2 separate regions of the Homo sapiens genome follow, and region 1 is linked to region 2. Evidence: fine-mapped expression QTL. A gene starts in region 2. The other region holds a variant in brackets. All regions are shown on one strand. Distances are from middle to middle.

Region 1 (5,000 bases), 31 kb before region 2:
ATCAAGTCCTAAATTTTGGAATGATTGTCTCATCGGCACTAATGATCTGGAAGGGGTTAATGGTAATAACTGGAAGTGAAAGTCCGATTGTAGTGGTGCTCAGGTAACAGTTTTTCCTTTCAAGGCATGGAATTGCATGGCATTACTTGGGAGAAAAATTGAGATATGAAATAACTGGCATATCATTCTCTTAGAAACTACTCTTTTCCAGAAAAGGGCCTGGAAGAAAATTAGTCACTACTTATCAGTTGTAAGAAATTCTCAGGCTGGGCACGGTGGCTTATGCCTGTAATCCCACCAATTTGGGATGCTGAGGCCGGTGGATTACTTGAGCTATGGAATTTGAGACTAGCTTGGGCAACGTGGTGAAACCCTGTCTCCACAAAAAATACAAAAATTAGCGGGTGTGGTGGCATGGACCTGTAGTCTCAGCTACTCGGGAGGCTGAGGTGGGAGGATCACCTAAGCCCTAGAGGTTGAGGCCTGCAGTGAGTTGTGATTGCACCACTGCACTTCAGCCTGGGTGACAGAGCGAGACCCTGTCTCCAAAAAAAAAAAAAAAAAGAGAGAAAAGAAATTCTTACTTTGTTAGGCATTTCCATTCAGAACTCCAAAGGGCTCATGACCTTTCTACAAAAAAGTTACCATGTTAAGGTTTGTTTTTGTCACATCCCTTAATAAAGTGTCTCGTTGTACTTTATTTTCCTGAAATTCTTCTGTCTTTTTATATTCCTCATTTTGATACACCAGGCCTGATATTTAGTTGTTAGTTCATTAGATGTTATAGTACTTCCACAAATTAAGAGTTTTTCTGTAGCATGTTCTCAATGTCAGGATAGAATCATCACTAATTATTTCCAAGTTTCCTGCTGACCTTTAAATATCACTTCTAAACTAGACTCCAGGAATTTTGAAGGCATTAATACCATCTCTTATGGTGACAAATAGTACTGAATTTTTTTTCTCCACTCTGCTTCCTTCCCTATCTTTGCACTCATACTCTTAGTGAATATTTTTTTTAAAGATGGGGTCTCGCTCTGTTACCCAGGATAGAGTGCAGTGGCGCCGTCATAACTCACTGCAGACTCCACCTACCGGTCTCAAGGGATCCTTCCATTTTAGCCTCCTGAGCAGGTGGGACTGCAGGCCTGCCCCACCATGCCTGGTTAATTTTTTAATTTTTTTGTAGAGACGGTGTATTAGTCCATTTTCATGCTGCTGATAAAGACGTACCCAAGACTGGGCAATTTACGAAAGAAAGAGGTTTACTGGACTTACAGTTCCACGTGACTGGGGAGGCCCCACAATCATGGCAGAAGGTGAAAGGCAGGTCTCACATGGCGGCAGACAAGAGAAGAGAGCTTTTGCAGGGGAACTCCCCTTTTTAAAACCATCAGATCTCGTGAGACTTATTCACTGTTACTAGAACAGCACAGGAAAAACCTGCCCCATGATTCAGTTACCTCCTGCTGGGTCCCTCCCAAAACACGTGGGAATTCAAGATGAGATTTGGGTGGGGACACAGCCAAACCGTAGCAGATAGGATCTCACTGTGTTGCCCAGTCTGGTCTTGAACTCCTGGGTTCAAGGATCCTCCCACCTTGGCCTCCCAACATGCTGGGATTACAAGCATGAGCCACCATGCGCAACCACTCTTAGTGATTTTAAAACCTAATTTAGTAACTCATTTTTAGAGAATTACCACTTGGTTGTTTGACTGAAACATTATAGGCTGGGTGTGGTGGCTCACACCTGTAATCCCAGCACTTTGGAAGGCCAAGGCGGGCAGATCACTTGAGGCTAGGAGTTCGAGACCAGCCTGGCCAGCATGTTGAAACCCCATCTCTACTAAAAATACAAAAATTAGCTGGGCGTGGTGGCAGGCGCCTGTAGTCCCAGCTACTCAGGAGGCTGAGGCAGGAGAATTGCTTGAACCTAGGAGGCGGAGATTGCAGTGAGCGGAGATCGCTCCATTGCACTCCAGCCTGGGTGACAATTGAAATTTTGTCTCAAAAAAAAAAAAAAAAAGAAAGAAAAGAAACATTACAGTTTTGTCATATTTTGGGCTTAATTTTGTAAGCCCAGATCTTTTCTGGAGATAATGGAGTGCATATTTAAAATAAATGGAATTATTAATATTATCTAGAATCTAAATAATAGTGCATTAACATTATCTAGAACCTAAGTAATAGTACTTAGATTACTCTTTTTTAACCAAATTATCGAGATATGATTGACATACAAAAAGCTGTACATATTTAATGTATACAACTTGATCAATTTGCAGGTAAGTATATTCCTGTGAAACCATCATCACAATCAAGCAAGTGAATATATTCATCACTTTCAAAAGTTTCTTCCCTTTCTATTTTTTTGTGATAAGAACATTTAACACAGGGCCTCCCTCCATCGCCCAGACTGGAGTGTGCCATCACACTTGGCTAATTTTTTTTTTACAGAGACTGAGTCTTGAACTCCTGATCTCAAGTGATCCTCCCCCCTCAACCTCCCAAGTGCTGGGATGATAGGCTTGAACCATCGTGCCTGGCCCCCAGTTTCTTTTCTTTTCTTTTTTTTCTTTTCTTCTTCTTCTTTTTTTTTTTTTT[TTG/G]AGACAGAGTCTCACTGTATTGCCCAGGCTGGAGTGCAATGGCGCAATCTCAGCCCATTCAACCTCCACCTCCTGGGTTCAAGTGATTCTTCTGCGTCAGCCTCCTGAGTAGCTGGGATTACAGGCGTGCGCCACCATGCTCACCTAATTTTTGTATTTTTAGTTGAGACTGGGTTTCACTGTGTTGATCAGGCTGGTCACGAACTCCTGACCTCAGGTCACCTGCCCACCTCGGCCTCCCGAAGTGCTGGAATTACAGGTGTGAGCCACCGCACCTGGCTGAGATTTTTTAAAAGTCCCTCAGGTCATTCCAATGTGCAGCAAAATTTGAGACCCACTGCCATATCCCTTTACATAGAGGGAAGAGAGTCTTTAAACAAAAGTGTTTGGAGTTTGTACTTATTCCTGCGTTGAACTTTATTTCTTGTCTTTCTATTCTTACTTAAGCTGTTGTTATAGAAAACCGGAGCTTGAGTTTCTGAAAAAGACTGATGGGCTACTTCTTTATAGATAAAAAGGGGTTCATAAATTAGTGCAAATATCTTAGGACCTTTTCAGCACTTGGCGTAGGATGGAAGAGGTAAGAGGTAAGAAGATACTCTGTAGAAGTTAGTCTTACTTGTTACCATGGAATTGAATCTTTTCCTGGCTTCGGAAATTCTTAGGCAAAAATCTCTGCTTATTCCTTGGTTTTCTTTTTTTCTCTTTTTAAAATAAGTAAATTGATAACACAAGCTTTATCTCTGTAGCTGGCTGTTCCTTGACTTGATGAGCCATTTTTCCTTCTAAATGAGTTGAACATATAAGGTCATCTTGGCTGTTATCTTTATAAATGGCAGAGGAAGATGATCCAGTTCTCATTTGCATATCTGAATATGTTTAGTGTTTTCAGATGAAGTGAGAATAAGGGCATTGTTTTAAAGTTCATTCTTTTATATTCTGTTTGTCATTTGAAATTTTAAAAGGTTAAGGAATTAGTAACACTGACCTTTTCAAGATTTAAGCTTCTTTGACTAGTGATACTTGAAATGGAACTAGTTAGTGAAGGTTAATAACTAAAAAAAAATCCTTTGGCGTAACTTTTTAGTCTGAGGAAACCATATTTTGAGAACAATACACATTTCTGTTGATATAGTTGTTAGGGTATTGAGTATACTCCCAAAGTGATATTTTTTATTTTGTTGAATATCTAATTTTGAAAGTACATTTAATCTCATACTTTCTTTTTGCTGTTATATTCTTCTTTCCCTTCCAGTGGCAGCATGGAACCTGCATTTCATAGAGGAGATCTTCTCTTTCTAACAAATCGAGTTGAAGATCCCATACGAGTGGGAGAAATTGTTGTTTTTAGGATAGAAGGAAGAGAGATTCCTATAGTTCACCGAGTCTTGAAGATTCATGAAAAGTATGTGCAAAGTATAGCATCTTTGTTTCTAAGTGCTTTTGTTTAAGTGTTTGTGGTATTTAGTTTTGATAGCCTAAAGATTGTAAAACAGTGAGGAACCTCTAGGCCTTCTTCCAGTCCATTTTTATGAATGCTGGAAAGTTTAGTGAACATTTTGAAAACTGTAAATAATTATTTATTAGTTCATTTCTTTCCCTGAAGGTTTTTCCAGAGGTTTTTCTTTGTTCCCTTTTACTTCCCAACCTGTCAGTGACTCTGTATATAATTCCAAAAAACTATGACATAAAGATAGATCCTAAATAGAATCTTCTGGTTGGGCACAGTGGCTCACGCCTACAATCCCAGTACTTTGGGAGGCCAAGGTGAGAGAATGGCTTGAGCTCAGGAGTTTGAGGTCAGCCTGGGCAACATGGTGAGACTCCTTCTCTATTAAAACAAAACAAAACCAAAAAAGGCCAGGCATGGTAGCTCACGCCTGTAATCCCAGCACTTTGGGAGGCCGAGGTGGGTGGATCACCTGAGGTCAGGAGTTCGAGACCAGCCTGGCTAACATCGTGAAACCCTGTCTCTACTAAAATATAAAAATTAGCCAGGTGTGGTGGTGGGCGCCTGTAATCCCAGCTACTTGGGAGGCTGAGGCAGGCGAATTGCATGAACCTGGGAGGTGGAGGTTGCAGTGAGCCAAGATTGCAGCACTGCACTCCAGCCTGGGCGACAGAGCCAGACTCCATCTCAAAAAATAAATAAATAAATAAATAATTAGCTGGGCGTAGTGGCATGTGCCTGTAGTCCCAGCTAATTGGAGGACTGAGGTGGGAGGATTGTGTGAGCCCAGGAGTTTGAGGCTGCAGTGAGTCGTGTTTGTGCCACTGCACTCCAGCCTGGGCGACCGAGTGAGACCCTGTCTCAAAAAAGAAAAAAGAAAGAAATGAAAGAAAAGGGAGGCATCCTGTATGACACACAGACGAGAAGTGAAAGAGTAGGCAT
Region 2 (5,517 bases):
TATTTTCTTTTTCTTTCTTTCTTTCTTTCTTTTTTTTTTTTTTTGTGGCGGAGTTTTGCACTTGTTGCCCAGGCTGGAGTGCAGTAGTGCGATCTTGGCTCACTGCCGCCCTGACCTCCCAGGTTCAAGTGATTCTCCTTCCTCGGCCTCCTGAGTACCTGGGATTACAGGTGCGTTGCCATCACGCCCGGTTAATTTTTGTATTTTTAGTAGAGATGAGGTTTCACCATGTTGGCCAGGTTGGTCTCGAACTCCTGCCTCAGGTGATCCGCCCATCTCAGCCTCCCAAAGTGCTAAGATTATAGGTGCGAGCCCTGGCTCCCGGCTGTAATATCCATTCTTAATCGCTATTTTTGATGAAGCAATTTTTTTATTAAAAAACTTGGTGTACTTTAAATATTTTCCTGGTGTTAGCTATGATAGGATTTGCCATGTATCTTTCACCCTTTTAGTTACCCCATGGGTTGTTTTGTGAACCTGCCTCACATTTTCTGTGCATGTCCTTGAATGTTGTAGAATCCTAGGAGGGTCGAGAGTGGGTTCTGAAGAGCTTCCCCACGTACCTCCATTCAATTCAATGCTAGCCTTTCCCCATGGAGTGGAGGCCTTTGGACTTCTCTTGCCACCAGAGTGGACTTAGGGAACAGGCAGTTGGCATTTGAGGTCCTCATGCTAAACTTAGAGCCTAGCACTCCCTTGAGCAAGCCACCTTCTCCCCTGTGCCTCCCATTTTTTTCCCTAAGGTGAGTGCTCCTAAGTCTGTGGAGGTGCTCCCCTGCTGTTTTCTCCAGGGTCCTCAGAGGCCCCCCCCCTTTTTTTTCTATAGTAGGCTGACAGAGCAAATGGTTCCAAGGGTGCCTGGGGCCAGCCTCAGAGCTGTGGCTGCAGCTGTGAACCCAGGCTGTGTCAGAGGAAGCTTGGCTTAAGTATAAATAACCTTAGCAGAACTCAAGGTCCAGTCACCTGTGGAAGAGAGGTGAAACTCGAAATGCAGTGCCCACTCCCTCTCCCTCCTGAGATACATAAACACAACTTGGTGTTGAAATTTGAGATGGTACAATGGGAGTGGGTGTGGTTTAGGGAGAGTTGTATCTGCCCTGCATAGATTTGGGGGCCTGATGCAGTGGTCCAGACAGACCTGAAATCTGATTCCAGTGGGACTTCTGGGAAAGTGGCTAAACCTCTTAGCCTGTTCCCACCTATAAAAATGAGGAGACAGAAACCTACCAAATAAGATTCCTTCAAGCATTTAAGTGATGCAGCACTCAATCAATACCAGCTTCTGTGTGTTCACGCTAATTTCTATTATCCATGGACTAGAGAAGATAGGATGGGGGTTTGATGGATGCAGAGGAGAGGGAGGGGGGTCACAAAGGAATGATTACCGGAAGGTGATAAGAGCTATATCTGTACACCATGGCTAAGCTGTGACAAGAAAGCAGAGAGGTGTAAATGCCAGGGTGGGAGGTGAGAAGCAAGGAGATTGGGGGGAAAGCCAGGGCCAGAAATGAAACGTCCCTGTCCTGTGTGTCATGCTCCTGGAAGCTGGGCCTCCAGCTGGGTATGACAGCCAGTTTTTCATGTGAGCTTCCCCTTCTAGGATGAGGATCCACAGAGCTAGCAACCTTGCTGAGCTAGATACTAAGCAAGAGTCCTAGAAGCAGGTCCCATTATCAAGCCAGATGGGAGTAGGTTCTGGTACGGCCACTCTGTTCCGTGTTCCAGAGGTATCCAGAGTCCAAGGGGTGGTCTGCACCCCCGCTCCTCCATCACTCTCTCCTTTGTGTACTTGTCTCTCCAATGAGATGGTTAACTCCCTTGGGAGCAAGGAATTATCTGTCGCCCCTCTTCTTGTGTCTAGTGTAGTGCTCTGAACAATGGGTTTCAGTTAATTAAGCAAACATAAATGTATTCTTCTGGAGCACAGTGTTTTCCTCTGCTCATTATATGATACCACTTATCCAGAAGTTCTTTCCAAGAAAGTCCAGACAGCTCCTGGGGAGAACAAAGTGCCAGGTGTGAGAGGGCAGGTCCTACAGAATTGTTGCTTCCGGCCACAGAGTACTTATGCTAAAACATGTAAAAGTATTAAAATTAGGGCAGTGTGGTTATTACCATTTTACAGTTGAAGAAAGTGAGGTTCAGCCGGGTCACAGCTTGTACATGGACTCCTGGGTGCAGTGCAGTCCTGGGTGCAGTGCTCTTTCCACTTTCTTGACCCAGAGGTCTGCTTCCTGCCCATAAGCCAGGCCCTCCAGCTGGATGCCCGTTCCTCAGAAGCGGCCCTTTGTCCCACCCTCCATCATTCTGCATTCCCATTCTGAGCACCTACTGTGTGCCAGAACATTTCCAGACTGTGATGCTGGCTGTGAGAGGGCAGAGAGCAAGGTGAACACGGGTCAGATTCCCCCAAAGGGCGGAGGTGATGGGGATTAGTTTATGGAAGTCCTTTGGTGCCTAGCACTTGGCTGGACACTGTAAAAATGCCTCTGTTAGCCTGGGAAACCTAGCGACATCCAGTCTCTTGGAAAGAAAAAAAAAAAAAGCCAGGCATGAAGGCGTGTGCCTGTGGTCCCAGCTTCTGGGGAGGCTGAGGCTTGAGCCCAGCCCTGGAGGTTGAGTTTGCAGTGAGCCGTGATCGCGCCACCGCACTCCAACCTGCGCGATACTGCCAGATCCTGTCTCAGAAAAAAAAAAAAAAAAAAAAAAAAAAGCCTGTTACCCGGGAGGAGAGCTCCTCGCCCGACCTCTACCCTCATGAAGAGAGGCTCAGAGGGCTGAAGTGCCTATTTGGCCGAAAGCCGTGGCAGAGTGGCAAGGCAGGGCCAGGGGAAGCGGCTCCGCCGCCGGGGCCGGGCCCCTGTTTGGCCGGTGCCCGGTCCTTAGCCTGAAGGTGGCGGGCTTCCGCCAGAAGCCCCTGGCGGAAGCGGTGCCCGCGTGCGGGCCAGAGTGTGGGTGTGCAGGTCTCTGGGCGGCCCAAAGGGGGTGCCCCTGCCTGGTAACCTAGCGGGAGGGTGGGGACGGCGGGGAGGGCGGCGGGCGCGGGGCACGGCTCCGCTGCTCAGGGCAGGCTCCGCCCCCAGGGGCGCGGATTTAAAAGGATCGAAGGCAGCCCCGGAGCCCAGCGGCCGGGAAGCGCGCCCGAACGAAGCCGCGGCCCGGGCACAGCCATGGCCCGGCGGGCGGGGGGCGCTCGGATGTTCGGCAGCCTCCTGCTCTTCGCCCTGCTCGCTGCCGGCGTCGCCCCGCTCAGCTGGGATCTCCCGGAGCCCCGCAGCCGAGCCAGCAAGATCCGAGTGCACTCGCGAGGCAACCTCTGGGCCACCGGTAAGTCTTTGGGGACGGAGCAAGCAAGCGCCCCTCATCCAGTTCAGACCCCATTTCCTTCTCAACCCTCTGGCCGCTCCTCAGCCACGGACACTAGTGTCGGAGCAGGTGGAAAACCCTGGGGCTCATCTAATTTAATAGATATGTACTTGAGACCCGGACAGGTCAGTGACTTGGCTAAGGTCGCGCAGCCAGTTTAAGACAGGGCTGGGCTAGATCCTAAATCCCACTGCCAGCCGGTGCCCCTTACCTTAGGCGAGACTTAACCGAATCTTCTAACCGCTGGTGTGTTTTTGCTGCACCTCCACTTTCCAGGCGCCTCTTCACTCTCCACTTCCTACCCTGCCCTTTTTCGTCCCTTGTCCAAGCAGCCCACACAACTAGCAGAGTTTCTCCCTGGCCCTGGACCATCCCACCTTCCTGCCAGCTGTGCCATCCTCTCTACCTGTTCAGGAAAAGCTGAGGGAGCAGGCTTTGCCACCACCCAGACACCTTTGTGGCTCCTTGGTGAGGTGGAAGCACCAAGAGGAGGAAGGTTAAGTGTCTTCCCGCTACAAGAACGGAAACGTGGGAGAGATGAGGAACTTTTCCTCTGAGGTAGGATCCTGGCTGCTTGACTTCCTTGTGCCTGGACACCTCCTTTCCAGGTCACTTCATGGGCAAGAAGAGTCTGGAGCCTTCCAGCCCATCCCCATTGGGGACAGCTCCCCACACCTCCCTGAGGGACCAGCGACTGCAGCTGAGTCATGATCTGCTCGGAATCCTCCTGCTAAAGAAGGCTCTGGGCGTGAGCCTCAGCCGCCCCGCACCCCAAATCCAGGTGAGCCGGGCCCCTGCTCCAATGTCAGGAGGGCCCAGCTGGGGCCATCCCCGGATCCTGCATGGGAGGAATTACCACCCAGTACTGTATTAGGGTGTGACTGTCTGACTAGGACATTATGGGTGTGGACCCCAGAAAGCCAGGTTTCCAGGCTTTTCCCTCTTGAGGCAGAGCTCAAAGGAGGAACAGTCCAAAGAAAGGAAGCTGACCTTCCCAGTAGACCCCATGGGGCAAGAAGTAGGGAAAGAAGTTCCCCTGACTCATCACCCAGTCTAAAGTAACAGACTGGGATCATCAGCCTTTTGGAGCAGGACCTTTCTCCCCCAGTCTACACAGTCTTGTCCCACCCATGCTGTTCCCTGCTGCATTAGTCAAGTCCACCTTTGCTGTGTCCTGTGTATGCTTGTGGCCGGAATGGGACCCTGAGGCCCAGAGAGGGAAAGAGAAGTCAGCAGCCAAGACAGAGTCTGGACCTTGTTCACCTGGACTGGAGCTCTTCCCATTCTCTCATCTGCCTCAGTATCCAGTGGTAGGGTTTAGCAACTTCAGTACATTTGACGTTCTAGGCTGAATCACTGTTTCTTGTGAGGGCTGACGTGTGCATCATGGGATGTTTGGCAGCATCCCTGGTCTCTACATACTAGATGCCAGTAGCATCTTTCCCCCCCATCAAGTTGTGACAACTGAAAAGACCTCCAGACATCACCAGATGTCTGCTGGGGGAGAGGGCCCCAAATCATTATTGGTTGTCAGTCACTGATCTATGGGATTCAAGACTCCAAAGCTGGAGCCAAGCTAGCCTCAAGGTATAGCCCCGCTGAGTGGCAACTCCTTCATTCCCTGCTCCTGGTGCTGTCCTTACTGCACACCACCCTCCCTGGTCCTGCTGCTGTGTGCAGAAGGCAGTGTGATGTGGTAGAATGTGGGTTTTGACTACAACGTGCTGGGCTCATAACCTAGCTACTTAGTAGCTGTATGACCTTAGAAATGTCCCTTAACTTCTCTAAAGCCTCAATATTCTTCACCCATAAAATGAAGATAATAAGGCCCATCTCCCATTAAATGAGACCATTTATGTCAAATGCTCAGCATGGTGCCTGGCTCATAGACAGCCCTTAGTAGATGCGAGCTCTTATCAGTCTGTGAGCTCCCTGGCGGCACCTGTTGTAGACTCGCCTTCATATCCCCCAGTGTGCCTAGCATATAGTGTGTGCATTTTGAAGGGAGAGGCATTCCCTAGAAAAGGTCCAACCCAGCCTCAACCAACATCCCTGACTTCCTGAGGCACAGAACCAGCAGCCCCTGAGGACCTCAGATGTAAGGCCTAGGAGCTTGGGCTGGCTGAGTCTGAAGGGAAACAATGTCACCTC

Which allele goes with the higher level. Alleles are on the strand shown, and positions count from the first base shown. SD is a standard deviation of normalised expression in the study named.
In carriers of allele TTG in region 1, the expression in monocytes after Pam3CSK4 of the gene that starts at base 3,124 in region 2 tends to be lower than with G alone (large effect, 1.0 SD a copy in Quach 2016).

Evidence for each region. PIP is the estimated chance that this variant, and not a neighbour inherited with it, causes the effect. A credible set is the group of variants that fine-mapping cannot tell apart.
Region 1: its variant is the best candidate, but not a certain one, in a credible set for the expression of NMB in monocytes after Pam3CSK4 (Quach 2016, PIP 0.67).

What each region holds. Positions count from the first base shown.
Region 1 is chr15:84,686,638-84,691,637 of GRCh38, reverse strand. SEC11A (SEC11 homolog A, signal peptidase complex subunit) reads left to right here. Exons shown (of 6, transcript NM_014300.4): 2 at 1-103; 3 at 3,864-4,013. Among named protein-coding and RNA genes, the nearest start is that of SEC11A, 27 kb to the left of the region's middle. RefSeq lists an enhancer at 4,651-5,000. The variant TTG/G (reference allele first, on the strand shown) is at 2,607.
Region 2 is chr15:84,655,806-84,661,322 of GRCh38, reverse strand. It overlaps NMB (neuromedin B), which reads left to right and starts at 3,124. Exons shown (of 3, transcript NM_021077.4): 1 at 3,124-3,327; 2 at 3,975-4,147. The coding sequence starts at 3,171. RefSeq lists a silencer at 3,009-3,168.